Homo sapiens: one gene and its partners. The protein of the gene in region 2 purifies or fractionates together with the protein of the main gene of each other region. This does not show direct contact. Each region holds a gene or a part of one and is shown on either strand. Other genes may lie near its edges.

The links.
Region 1: the proteins of PTGFRN (region 2) and TSPAN15 purify together in Homo sapiens (co-immunoprecipitation; one large-scale study listed by IntAct). This does not show direct contact.
Region 3: the proteins of PTGFRN (region 2) and CD226 purify together in Homo sapiens (co-immunoprecipitation; one large-scale study listed by IntAct). This does not show direct contact.
Region 4: the proteins of PTGFRN (region 2) and OAS1 purify together in Homo sapiens (co-immunoprecipitation; one large-scale study listed by IntAct). This does not show direct contact.

The regions. Positions count from the first base shown.
Region 1 is NC_000010.11:69,499,964-69,503,464, reverse strand, and holds part of TSPAN15 (tetraspanin-15), read right to left. Parts: intron 1-3,501. UniProt on the Homo sapiens protein: Part of TspanC8 subgroup, composed of 6 members that interact with the transmembrane metalloprotease ADAM10.
Region 2 is NC_000001.11:116,982,916-116,986,416, forward strand, and holds part of PTGFRN (prostaglandin F2 receptor negative regulator precursor), read left to right. Parts: intron 1-1,764; coding exon 1,765-2,070; intron 2,071-3,501. UniProt on the Homo sapiens protein: Inhibits the binding of prostaglandin F2-alpha (PGF2-alpha) to its specific FP receptor, by decreasing the receptor number rather than the affinity constant. Functional coupling with the prostaglandin F2-alpha receptor seems to occur.
Region 3 is NC_000018.10:69,857,374-69,860,874, reverse strand, and holds part of CD226 (CD226 antigen isoform a precursor), read left to right. Parts: 3' UTR 1-3,501.
Region 4 is NC_000012.12:112,909,961-112,913,461, forward strand, and holds part of OAS1 (2'-5'-oligoadenylate synthase 1), read left to right. Parts: intron 1-1,090; coding exon 1,091-1,275; coding exon of another isoform or gene 1,276-1,298; intron 1,299-3,501.

The DNA.
Region 1 (3,501 bases), on a different chromosome or scaffold from region 2:
TAGGTTGTGATGATCACAGAACCCACCTCCTAGGGCTGTTTTGGACATAAAGTGAGATACACATATAAAGTGCTTATCACGGGGCTGGGCACATGGAGGAGCACAAGAATGCTGGCTGGCGTGATTTGTTCACAATTCCAGCCCCTGCAAAGGAAAGGGAGGGTGTCTTCTCTCCTTCCGAGAGAGGGTTGGGCCTCAGATGTCATCTAGGTCATTCTAAATGTCAGGGCTTGATGTGCAGGCAAGACGACCTCCCTCGGTTTAGCTGGTTCTCCAGGTAGCCTCAGTCCCAGCCATGCCCAGTGCCCACTGGGCATTAGTCAGCCAGTGTTTTTGGCCCTTCCAGGCCATAAACACAACCCCTATGGAGAGGGTCAGGCCTGGAGAGCAGGTGCACGGGCACATGATGGGAGTGAGTGCTTTCCATCTCATTGGTTCATTCATTTGTTCATTGAACAAATATTAACTGAGCACCTATTGCATGTCAATCCCAGTTCTAGTCACTTGAAATACAGAACAACAAGACAAAGTCCCTGCCTTCATGGAACTTACACTGTAGAAAGGGAGATAATGAACATAACAAATAGGTAAGCTGCATGGTACGTAGGGAGGTGACAAGAGTGACTTCACTGGGCCAGCTCTGGTGACCTCGGGGGATGAGTCTCTTAGCACACAGGCAACTGGCAGAGGCCTCTCTGGCATCAGAGCCCAGAACCCTTCTCCAGGCCCAGGGGGGACTCACCTCACCCTGCCAGGAGAGCCCCTCACCAAGGGGTGAGGGGATACGATGCATCCATAGTCTTTCCAAAAGTAAAGCCTGCCTGGGTTTACCTGCCTGACCATAGAATCGATATTCTGCAAGAGGCTCTGCTGAAGTTCACAGGCCCCAAGACCAGGGTCCAGTAGCCTCTTCCATCCTGCACGGGGCCACAGGACAGGAAGTCAGAAGGGGGACTCCTGGGCAGCCAGAAGATCACAGCAATGTTTGTGTGTGCATCCTCTCACCCTGAAAAGACTGAGCAGCTAATGGGGACAGGGAGAGGGGCCTTCGCGACAGGCCCCCAAGGGGTAGCCAACAACAAGGGAGGGGAGGTACGTGAAAATTGGTCCCAAGAGCTCAGCAGGCACAGCAGTCTGGAGCCATTTAATGTAGAAGCACGCTGCCCTCTGCACCAACATCTCCGAGGGATATATCCTGGTATAACCAGATTTTACAGCCCTATGTGAACTTCTATGGCTCAAATCCTCTATTGGAAGCTCATATAAGACATTTCTTTTAAAGCTGAGTGTTAGGGAAAAGGTTACTTTCCCTGAAGAACTGGTATGTTCTGCTGGTATGTTCTGCTGAACAGTAACAATGTAACAGACCATGTCTCCCTTTTCCTTTTGGTTGCCAGGAAACTCTAAGCCAGTGGTCTCCAACCTTTCTGGCACCAGAGACTGGTTTCAAGGAAAATAATTTTTCCACAGGATGGGGTGCGGGGGGGTGGGGGGTGATGGTGTCGGGATGAAACCATTCCACCTCAGATCATCAGGCATTAGTTTGATTCTCATAAGGAGCATGCACCCTAGGTCCCTTGCATGCACAGTTTACAATAGGGTTCACACTCCTATGCGACTCTAATGCTGCTGCTGATGTGACAGGAGGTGTAGCTCAGGTGGCAATGCTCCCTCAACCTCTGCCCACCTCCTGTTGTGCGACCTGGTTCCTAACAAGCCACTGACCGGTACTGGTTCATGGCCTGGAGGTAGGGGAGCCCTGCTCCAAGCCACCAGACACGAGGCTCAGCTCCTTTTCAGTGAGTCCATGAGGTCCTGAGGCTTAGATAGCAGGATTTTATATTTTTCTCCATCATCTAGGCCTCCTATCTGAGAATACAATTCCCACAGTCCTGATTTTTAATGCTATTTTAGTTTTTTACACTACATATTTCCCGTGTACTCATTCAAATCCCAGGTTGAATAGTACAGTGTAAAATAAATAGATCTGGACACAAATCAACCAGTTCTATGGAGGAAGCGAACGCCCTGTTTCACATTTAGAGAAAATCATCCAGGTGTGGTGGCACAGGGAGACTCAATGGTCATGTGTAACACAGGGTCAGATAACCCCGGCCAGGGGAAGGCTCCTCCCTACCTCAGTGCTCTCATTCAGATGCTGTCTTTAGATTCTACCCTATCTGCAGATGATGTCCGTGTTTACACCCCTTGCCTAGTCGTTCCCAGAACTCCAGACTCCTATATCCAACCGCATCTTTGACACCCCTGATGGGATGCTGAACAGGCTCTCAAACCCCCCACGTCCACGGTGAGCTCCTGGTCACCCAGCCTGCCTCCTTGCAGTCCTCCCCTCTCAGGCAGTGGCAGCCCCGTCTTTCCTGTGGCTCAGACCAAAACCTGGGTATCCTCCTTGATTTCTCTCTTTCATTCATCGCCCACATCTGCTATGCGAGCAAATCCTGTAGGCTTACTTGCAAAATACAGCCAGAATGTCACCACGGTTTGCCACTTCCACCACCACCACCACCACCCAGCTCCAAGCATCTGTCTTCCCCTCCCTGGTGCAGGGATGCTGTGGGGAGCCCTTAGGTGTCAGCCCCCTGCAATAACTACTTCATGTGATCATTAATTTTATATGTCAACATGACCAGGCCATGGGATACCCAGATATTTGGCCAGACATTATCCTGGGTGTCTCTGTGGGGGTGTTTCTGCATGAGGCTAATGTTTAAATCAGCAGACTAAGTAAAGCAGATGGCCCTGCCCAAGGGGGAGAGGTCTCATCTGATCAGGGAAGGCCTGAACAGAACAAAAGACTGCCCTCTCCTCAGTGACCATAAGAGAATTCTCCCTGCTTGGCTACCTTCGGGCTTGAACTGAAATGCTGGCTCTTCCTAGGTTTGAAGCCTGACCAGCCTTTGAATGGGAACTCCACCCTCAGCTCTCCTGGGTCTCCAGCCTGCCGACTCACCCTGCAGATCTTGGGACTTGCCCGCCTCCATAATTACACAAGCCAATTCCTTATCATCAATCAATCCCTCTCTTTCCTCTTGCTGTATTAGTCTGTTCTTGGCTGAACAGAGCCAGCAAGTCCCTTCTTGGGTGGACCACTGGACTCATGCAATGCCTGGTCAATGTGGGTGGGAGTGTGAAGGCCTGGCCCCCTCACCCCAGTAGGGGACAACTCTGAAGGGCTGTCCTCATAGATGTGGCTGAGGCCTCCAGCCGAACTGAGCTGAGGCTGCATCACTGCTCAACTCCCTTCATTGCCCAATCCCGCTTCTGGCTCCCACTTCCACAGGTGTTGATCCAAGAGCACCTTCCTGGACAAGATGACCTATGACCCCTGGATCACTGCATATCAGCCCCTAACTCTATCCCTGCATCTAGCATGTCCCTCACAACAGCCAGACTGATTCTTGTAAAACCAAGTCAGAGTGCCCCTCTTCCATGCAGCCCTGTATGGTCCATCACTCAAGGGTGCCCCACAGTCCTGCCTGT
Region 2 (3,501 bases):
GCCAGAGGCCCAGCCCACCAGCTGGGGTGGACTGGCCACCAGCTGCATTTGCTGCAGCTGGTAATGCCCTTCCCCTTAGCAGGTCTGTGTGTAGGAGCATGTGTGTTGAGCTGTGGAGATAATGTTGTTCATGGTGACCAACTTTTATTGAGTACTTACTGTGTTCCAGGTGCTGTTCTAAGCATTTTAATAAATGTGGTAAATTTAACCCTGGGTTTTGTCATTTTCATTTTGCAGATGAGGAAACTAAGTCTCAGTGAACTTGGGGAACTCGCCCAGGTCACATGGTTCATTAGTGCTGGTGCTGGGATGCTAGCCCAGGCAGCCTGGCCCTGGAGCCTGGCTCCCACACCATAAGGCACAGCGGGGATCAGGGCTTAGAGTCTGGGAACCCGGTTTGGCTTTTTGCCTTCAGCAACCACCCAGCACCTGCAGGTGACAGCAGCACTGAGTTAAGAGTTTTCACTGAAGACGAGAGTGATGCGGGTGTCCACTCTGCCCTTGGCACTGTGAGAGCATGAGGCTGTTTATGGCACTCCCTCTGCCCCCAGGGAGCTAGTTTCCTTGGAGAGACACTGGGAACAAAAAAAAAAAAAAAAAAAAAAAATTATGCTCAAGTGCCACAGTGGGTCAATGGGAGAAAAAGAGAAGATATTACATGTTTAGAGTGAGCTAAGGAAGAATTATCATTTGGATAATTTCATAGAAATTCTTGCTTTTAGTTCTGCTTACTTTTTTAATATGTAAGCATCTGAAAATAATTTATTTGCCTTATGTGCTTTTTGAGGCTATTAGTGTATTTTTACTAAATGAACAAATGTTATCTCTTGTTCGGCAAAAAATTGTGTTATTTGACATTTATATAAAACGCTTTCTCAAGTGGATTTAAGACAACAGTGTCATGGCTGTTGTCTTTTGTTGCTGGATGAATCTCAGAGCCGACACAGCTGATAATGGTTGGTACCAGTCAAGGGAAGAGGTCAAGGGCTTATGATGTGTGCTCTGTTTTCACATTCCATGAGAATTACCACTTGTGCCAAAGTCTTCTTTCTCTTATGCCCATATTAATTTATTTGAGGCTGTTAGAATCTTAATTTTGCAGAGTACTTTACGATTCAGCATTACTCTCTGGGACTGTTAAACTGTGTTCCATTTTCTCAGCTTGACATTTTTTTTCCTCTTGTTTTGAACTTAAGCACTTCTGCAAGGAAAGAAAAACCATAGTGTACAATAAAATCTAAACTGTTTACAACTCTAAATTTGGTGCAATTCATTTTATGTACATTTTGTTCCATATGACTTTAGTGTCCTTCCAGTCTTGGGTTCTTCTGCCTAAACTGTCAAAGGAGCTGGCTTTCTTTGGGAGAGAGAGCCTGCAGTGTCCTGGCATACCAGCTTTCGGATCAGTGTTCTCTGTGGGAGACAGTTTTTGGCCCTGACTCTTCTTCCTGTGGCCCCTTAGTCTGGGTGGCAGCAGTGCAGTGGTTAAGAGGCTGGGCTCTGGAGCTGTACTCCCTGGGTTAAGCTGCACACTCTGCTACCTGCTGACTACATGACCTTGAGCAGGTATATAGTCTGGCAATAATGGCAGAATAAAAGTATGATAGTGCCTTCATCATAGGGCTGTTGTGAGGATCCAGTGAGACCGAAGGCATGTAGTGTTGTGCTTGCCATACGTAGTAAGGGCCTCATACATGGATGTGGCCATACATATGACTTCTGCCCATTGCACTGACCCCAGGGTTTTGGCTTGGTAATCCGTAGATGACATGGCCTTTGATGTGTCCTGGTTTGCGGTGCACTCTTTTGGCCTGGACAAGGCTCCTGTGCTCCTGTCTTCCCTGGATCGGAAGGGCATCGTGACCACCTCCCGGAGGGACTGGAAGAGCGACCTCAGCCTGGAGCGCGTGAGTGTGCTGGAATTCTTGCTGCAAGTGCATGGCTCCGAGGACCAGGACTTTGGCAACTACTACTGTTCCGTGACTCCATGGGTGAAGTCACCAACAGGTTCCTGGCAGAAGGAGGCAGAGATCCACTCCAAGCCCGTTTTTATAACTGTGAAGATGGATGGTAAGAATGTCACCCAAATTTCTCAGTGTTTGGGAATGTCTTCTTCTTGTGCCAGGCTGTAGCTGACAGAACCCAGGTGGCCACAGTTTGAGGAATGTGCCATAGCACGTCCTGCTTTCTTTCTAGACCTGGCCTGAGCCTGCACCCAGAAGGGCACCAGCAGCCCTTGCAGTTTCCCCAGCTTTGCTATTATGTGCTAGTGTCACCATTGATAAATAATTTTCAAGACTTACTAGAAAAATTTTCAAGGCTTTGCCTCTTCCATAAATTTATAGAAACTCGCTTTATGGTGTCCGAGGGTTGGCATGGATTCTGCTAGGCACAGGCAGAGAGCAGCCTTGAGAGAGAGGGCTCAGGTCAATAGGGGAGGCTATAGCTTAGGGACCTGCTACTCTCACTACCACTGGTTTTGCTTCTTAAGAGAGACTCATGGCTGGGCACAGTGGCTCACGCCTGTAACCCCAGCACTTTGGGAGGCCGAGGCGGGCGGATCATGAGGTCAGGAGTTCGAGACCTGCCTGGCCAACATAGTGAAACCCCGTCTCTACTAAAAATACAAAAAAGAAAAACAAAATTAGCCAGGAGTGGTGGCGGGTGCCTGTAATCCCAGCTACTCGGAGGCTGAAGCAGGAGAATTGCTTGAACCCAGGAGGTGGAGGTTGCAGTGAGCCGAGATCGCACCATTGCACTCCAGCCCAGGCGACAATGGGATACTCCATCTCAAAAAAAAAAAAAAGAGACTCCTTCTGGAGTCAGTGGCACAGAGTGGGTACTTCACGGAGCCCCAAGATGGGAGGATGAGCTCCCAGCCTCGTTGGCCCACGATGAACACCAGGGTCAACCTAACTAGACAGTCAGAGCTTTGTTCCTTGAGCATCCCAGAGTGGGGACAGTTGTTCCTTGGTTTACAAAAAACATGTCTCCTTTGTGGAAAATTTCAGAAAGTACATGTTAGTCGAAATAACTCCATAAAGAGAATTAAAGTCCAGGGGCCTCCGAGGATGAGTAAAAGCCTTTTGAGTGTTTCCCTAGTGATCAGTCAGATGGAAATTGGAGCCCTAGCTCTTCCACAGACTACTTAGCCTTTCTGATCCATTTTCTCTCGTAAAATGGGATAATAGTCTTCTATGGGGCTATTTCGAAAATTAAACCTTAGCAAACGTAAAGCACCTAGCCCAGTGGCAGCGTCCACCCAAGGAGCATGGGTACTTATGGGGAAAGGAAGGTGGGATTTCAAGGGTGGAGTCTAAATGGTGTTTGTGCATTTCTGACACTTAAATCATCTGTACCATATTTTGCATCTTAGGAATTCCTTGCTTGAAGTAACTCCGTATAAAAACCCAGATTTAACAAACAGGGGAGTGATTATTCACTTTGCTAGATAATTTAGTATAGTGTTACTTAAAATAGCTCCCTTAGTACACTTCAGTT
Region 3 (3,501 bases), on a different chromosome or scaffold from region 2:
CTTATAAAGTGTAAGTGGAGACGCTAAATTGTGAGTACAAAGTTTCTTTTTCACAACAGTGATAAGAAAATATCTTTAAAAAATATAAGACAATATAAACATGTCATCATTAGTTTAGCTACTATTAAAATGTAACATCTAGAAAGTACTGATCTCCACCTTCAGACTTCTGTATAAGTATATTTTTTCACTGATCTGTTCATTAGAGTTCTTCCAGCCAAGACTCTGGGCTCTTAAAACATGTATCTGAAAACTAAAAACAAGTTAATTTTTTTAAAAGCTTCTCTATTTCTAGTGATTCAATAGGTAGAAAAATAGCTTCTAGAATTAACTGCAATGCTTTCTAAGGAAATTTTATAAATCCTCAAGGTCGGTTTACACATATTTTTCCAGATTCAGAGCACTAACTATCTTGTAAGATGTAAGAAAAGGTCCATTTGGAAGTATGAGTAATAAATGTCTGGGATAATTCTGGTTTATTTCGTATTATCCTTGTTAGAATAAGTTATATGGTCAACCTGTTCAGAACACTTTTTCTAGTGTTAGTGTGTACTTTTGGATTTTTGGTTCTTGTAGGGTATAGAAATATTTTCCTTTGTCTTGTATTCTGTTGTTTTGAATGAATAAAACACAATGTTTCACGATCACTACTTTCATTTGCCATGGAGAAATAGCAGGGAAAAATTTCTACAGAATAAAATTAACTGATGAATTACATGCAGAAAAAATTCAAATCAATGATACATTGTAATTTTTATCTCAATGCAATGTTCTTTGTATTTTATTTTATTATTATTTTTTTGAGACGGAGTTTCACTTTTGTTGCCCGGGCTGGAGTGCAATGGCACAATCTCGGCTCACCACAACCTCTGCCTCCCGGATTCAAGTGATTCTCCTGCCTCAGCCTCCTGAATAGCTGGGATTACAGGCATATGCCAACATGCCTGGCTAATTTTGTATTTTTAGTGGAGACGGGGTTTCTCCACGTTGGTCAGACTTGTCTTGAACTCTGGACCTCAGGTGATCCACCTGCCTCAGCCTCCTAAATTGCTGGGATTACAGGCATGAGCGACCACTCCTGGCCTTGTTCTTTGTATTTTATAAGTGCATGTAGTGCAAAGGGTCAAAGGGCTTTACAGGTTTTTTGTTTGTTTGTTTTTGTTTTTCCCGAAACATAGTAGTCCCTTGCCCTTCCTCATTTTTGTTACCTTGAGACAACAAATTTTACTACTTCTAACTCATTATTTTATTTATGTTCACTTTTCTGAATAGCATGCTTATGACACTAATACTTTTTTTTTCAATTTTAGACATTCATTATTCATTTAGATGTCTTTCTCTCCCCAAACTCACCACATAAAATACTCTTCTCATGTCTCTTTCAGAAATATTTGTATTAAAATATGATTATATCAATATTTGGCATTTATTTCTTATGACCTTGCCAGTACTCTTAGTTAAACTACATGGTAAAAATGATTTTGCTTTCCCTCCTACATAACTTTTTTTCCACCTAGAGCTAATAATTGTCATTCTGGGGACTGACTTTTTCTGTATTTACCATAAATTGACCTGAAACTCCCCTGTGATGCAGCAGGAATTCTACCAACGTCAACTTCCTTAGAAAGACTCCATTAGAAGCTTGACTTGGGGCTAGAAGGAGAGGCACACAACTGCCATCCTGGTGTCTCCCTTCATCCAGAAAAAGGGGGAGGAATACATGAAACCTAGAATCCACTCTAAAACATTTTCCAGAACAAAAGGACATGTGTTTCCGTGTTGTAAATGTTTAACGAGTGCCCATAACAAGGAATAATAAGTCTATTATGTTTGCTTTTGTGTCTGTAAAAGTTGGGGGTATTGGTTGTAAGCACGAAAACAGATACTGACTGTTGAAGAAAAAAAAAAATACGAGGTCAGGAGTTTGAGACCAACTTGGCCAATATGGTGAAACCCTGTCTTAGTAAAAATAGAAAAATTAGCCAGGCCTGGTGGCACGCACCTGTAGTCCCAGCTACTTGGGAGGCTGAGGCAGAAGAATCGCTTGAACCCGGGAGGCAGAGGTTGCAGTGAGCCAAGATCGCACCACTGCACTCCACCCTGGGCAACAGAGCGAGACTCCGTCTCAAAAAAAAAAAAAAAAAAAAAAAAAAAAAGTTAAGTATTTGAACATAGGGGTGGCTCATAGAATTCCCAGGACACCCGATGGAGTAGGCTTGCAAAACACAACATGTGGCAACTCCAGTGGGAAACGAGGCAGGAAACACTCGTTTCCTGCAGAAAGCAACAATTTGGGCTTCGATACCCTCCCTAGAACACAGGGCAGTGAATCTGAGCAGCATCAGTACCCCACGTTCGGATGAGTCCTGAGCCCCTATTTTTATTCACTGACTTATTCCAAAATCAGTGTCTCTTAAATATATCTGGAAGGCAGCAGCTTGTATCTCCCCCTTCAGCTTCCATAGTGGCAGTCAGGGTACAACTTACTTTCCAAACAGAACACACTGCGACATTCCCTCCAGGCTCGTTGAAGAACTTCAACTGACAAATGTCCCTCCTCGACCAGATGATAGTTTTCTTAAAGGCAGGGTTTAATATACCCTTTTATAAATGTTTCAAGGCCCTGTGTAATACCTGAGTTTATTCCAGATGTAACTAAATATATCCAAGATTGTTTTAAAATAAATTGCTGAAAAAACAAATAAATACAGTTAGTATCTATATCAATATTCTCAGTTGGCAGTTTTGCAATAATGGCCGATAGTTCATTTTTAGTAACACTATTGACATTGCATTTGGATATTAGGGTTTACTAATCATCCGCATGTATACATTGCATATTTTTCTAGACTTTAACTTTATTCAAATCTATTGATTTTTAAACCTGCAACTTATGTCTAGACACAGGTATACCTTTACAAGAACTACCATTTTTTTTGGTAACATACTACCTCCAAAATTTCAAGTAAGAAGTTGATTTTTGTCCATTTTTAAATGGAAAACTTGTAATCAAAATGCCACAAAATTATACTGTGTATCATTTGACCTATAGAAACCAATATTATTACAGGAAGAAAGCAGAGCCAATCTTCTACCTGTGGTCAAATAAGTGGAGGCCCTTTCTAGACTAAGTTCTCATGAGTTTAAAATACCAAGCATAAGTTCTCCAAATTCCTGAAAAGGAAGCCTTGTGTTGTATTGCCCAGCCATATTTGTAAGACATAAAAATAAAACTTGAGAAGAAGCTATGATAACTTACTTTCTTCATTCTTCAAAATTTACATAATCTCAACTGATTTTATGTTTTTATGAAAATGCATTCTTAAGATATATCCTTATTCAATCATGTATTCATTACATCCTTTATGCCAGGTATCCAAAAGTACTTACAGTGACTAAGACCATTATTCTTTGATCAGCTGCCTGAGTAAGACTTTGAGCTCTCCAATATACTCTCAGTGATACTAAGTTTTCTGAGTAACAGCTTTGGATGTGGCTTCA
Region 4 (3,501 bases), on a different chromosome or scaffold from region 2:
CATGAAAAAAAAAATGCTGACTCTCCAAAGACACCAGGGTATGAGAAAGTTTTGGATTCTCTCCTTTGTGCCATCTCCTGTGTTGGGGGCTGAAGTACAATGGTTGTAAAAGACAAGAGGGAGAAGGCTGGTCACAGTGGCTCACGCCTGTAATCTCAGCACTTTGGGAGGCCAAAGTGGGGGGATCACTTGAAGTCAGGAATTCAAGACCAGCCTGGCCAACATGGTGAAATCTCACATCTACTAAAAATACAAAAATTAGCTGGGCGTGGTGGTGTGTGCCTGTAATCACAGCTACTCGGGAGGCTGAGGCAGGAGAATTGCTTGAACCCAGGAGATGGAGGTTGCAATGAGCCAAGATCATGCCATTGCACTCCAGCCTGGGCAACAGAGTGAGACTCCATCTCGAAAAAAAGAAAAAAGAAAAGAATATAAGGAGTGATTAAAAAAGAAAAGAAAAGAAAACTAAGTAGGGTGAAACAATAGATAGCCATGGGGGTTAGGGAGCTTTTTTAGACAGGGTCGTGAGGGAGGGTCCCTGAGCCTGAGTGGCGAGAAGGAGTGAGCCTTGGGGAGATCTGGAGGTTCTGGGAAGAGGAATGGCAAGTGCAGAGGCCCTGAAGCAGCAATGACCATGGCACATTTGAGGAAGAGAGAAAAAGTCAGAGAAGTAGAAAGTGGGCAAAGGAAGCAAGACAGGAGGTGAGGTGGGAGAGGTTCCAGAGACCAGATCACACCAGACATCATTGGCCACCATAAGATCTTTGGGTTTTAAAATTCCAGATGTTATGGGATGCAGGAAGCAGCATGATCAGCAGCATTCTCTAGGTGCCAGGTTGAGAACAGGCTGTGGGGGAACCTGTAAAGAGGTTGCTGCCATAGTTCCGGCGAGTGACGGTGGTGGCTTGGATGGGGTGATGGCAGTGGAGAGGGCAGGAGGGAGGATCAGGAATGGACCTCAAGACTTCCCAGCCCTGGGTCTGCTGCACTTTTCAATCAAACCCCATGGCCAGGGAGATTGTCCCCTCAGAGTGACTGAAGGAAATTCAGAGAAGAGCTGACACCTAAGTTGTAGATTTTGCCCGAACAGGTCAGTTGACTGGCGGCTATAAACCTAACCCCCAAATCTATGTCAAGCTCATCGAGGAGTGCACCGACCTGCAGAAAGAGGGCGAGTTCTCCACCTGCTTCACAGAACTACAGAGAGACTTCCTGAAGCAGCGCCCCACCAAGCTCAAGAGCCTCATCCGCCTAGTCAAGCACTGGTACCAAAATGTATGGCCCTCCCACCAGGCCTGGTGGGTCCTGTCTCGACTGGGAGCAGAGGAGGGGTGGGGGGAGGAGAGAAAGAAGGGAGTGAAGGGAAGAGGAGGGGGAGTGGTGGAGGGAAATAGAGGGATGGAAAAAGGAGAGAAAGGAAAAAGAGGTGGAGAGAGGAGCCTGCAACAGAAGGGAGAATGAAAGGGAAGGAAGAGAGAAAGGAAGGGATTTTGGTGTTCTGTTCACTGCTGTATCCCCAGAACTTAAAACAGAGCCTGGTGCATAATAGGTGTAAATAACTGTTGAATAAATGAATCAATGCTACATACACACACGCACGCACACACACACAGAGAGAGAGTCAACCACACTCTTCAGAAGGTGGATAAGTTAAAACAAGAGTTTCAAACAAATATATGTTCAGATGCCCTTTCCTCCCACTTACTGGCTGGCTGGCCTTAAGTAAGCAACTTAACCTTTCTGTTCTTTCTGCTTTCTTATCTGCAACGAGTAGCATGCCATAGCTAGAGTAACACGGCATATAGTTGGTCCTGATAAATGTAGCATATTTTAGCCACCATAGGAGTACACATAATAAAAGCTAACATGTAGTATGTGCTTAGCTTATCTATGTTTTGTGGATGTGATACAATTTTCTGTTCACTTTTAAATGCCCTGCATCTTAGTCAATTTTAACAGTGATTCTGTAAGTTAGATAAGGTTAGGCATTATTATTAAATCCATTTTACACCAAGAGAAACTTGGGTCAAAAAGAGAAACTCCTGGGTCACATGGCTCATTCGGCCAATAAGTAGCAGAAGTAAAATTTGAATTTGGCTGGGCGCGGTAGCTCACACCAGTAATCCCAGCACTTTGGGAAGCCAAGGCAGGTAGATTGCTTGAGCCCAGGAGTTCAAGACTAGCCTGAGCAACATGGCAAAACCTCGTCTCTACAAAATAAACTAAAAATTTAGCCAGGTGTGATGGTGAGCACCTGTAGCCCCAGCTACTGGGTAGGCTGAGGTGGGAGGATCGCTTGAGCCTGGGAGGAGGAGGTTGCAGTAAGTCAGGATTGCACTACTGCCCTCCAGCCTGTGAGACAGAGCAAGATCTTCTCTCAAACAAACAAACAAACAAACAAACAAAAACTCGAATTTGGGTCTATTGACTTAAGAGTTTGCCTGATAATAATAGGCATTCAATGTATATTTCTTGAATGAACGAATGAATGAAAATAATCAGGAATAAACTTTCCAATTTAAAAGTAACACCTCTAGGTAAAAAAAAGACAATCATTTAGTTGCCAGACTTCTAAGTGTTTGCTGTTCTATGAATTGTAATCATGGAGCCTGAGCATTGTAGAATTTACAAAAGCAGTTCCTGACAAAAGCAGCACTGCCCCCAGGGACATATTGAAAATTAATGAGGGTGTTTTTGGTAACCATGGTGATGGGAGGACATGGGTGCTACTTATATTTAGTGGAAAGAAGACAAGAATGCTAGTTATTGTACAATGATCAAGAGAGTCCTGCACAGCCAAGAATTGTCTTTTTCTTTCTTTCTTGATGCTGTTCTCCTTTAAAACAAGACAAGATTAACAATAATTTAACTCCACTAACCACCATCATCACCACCTCCAACTTATATGCTACATTTCTTGTATATTTCAAGTCTGTTTATATTTTCAAGTGCCTCGAAGTATTATTGTTTTATAGCCAAATGTTTAGTTAATCTGCTCACAGATTTACCACTTTCTTCACTATTCATTCTGTCTTACACCTCTAACATTCCATCTGGGGTAATTTTCCTAAATGATCATGCATCCTTTGGGATTTCTTTTGATGATGGTCTATTGGTAGTAAACTCTCTCAGTTATTGTTTGTCTGAAAATGTCATGCTTTTGCCTTCATTGTTGAAGGGTGCTTTTGCTGGGTGGTCATTTCAGTATATTGAATATATCATTCCATCTTCCAGTGTCATCATTAAAAAGTCAGTTGCCAGTCTAACTGCAGCTCTTTTATAAGTAACCTGTCTTATTCTTCTGGCTGCATGTAAAAGTTTTCTCTTTGTCTTTGATTTTGTTTAGCTTCAATCTGCTGTGTCTTAATGATGGGTTCCTATTGTTTGTCCTGATTGGGATTCCGTTAAGATTCCTGAATCTGTGGGTAGATATCTTTAATCAGTTTTGAAACTTCTCAGCCATTCTTCTAAAATATTGATTCTCCTTCATTCTCTCCTCAC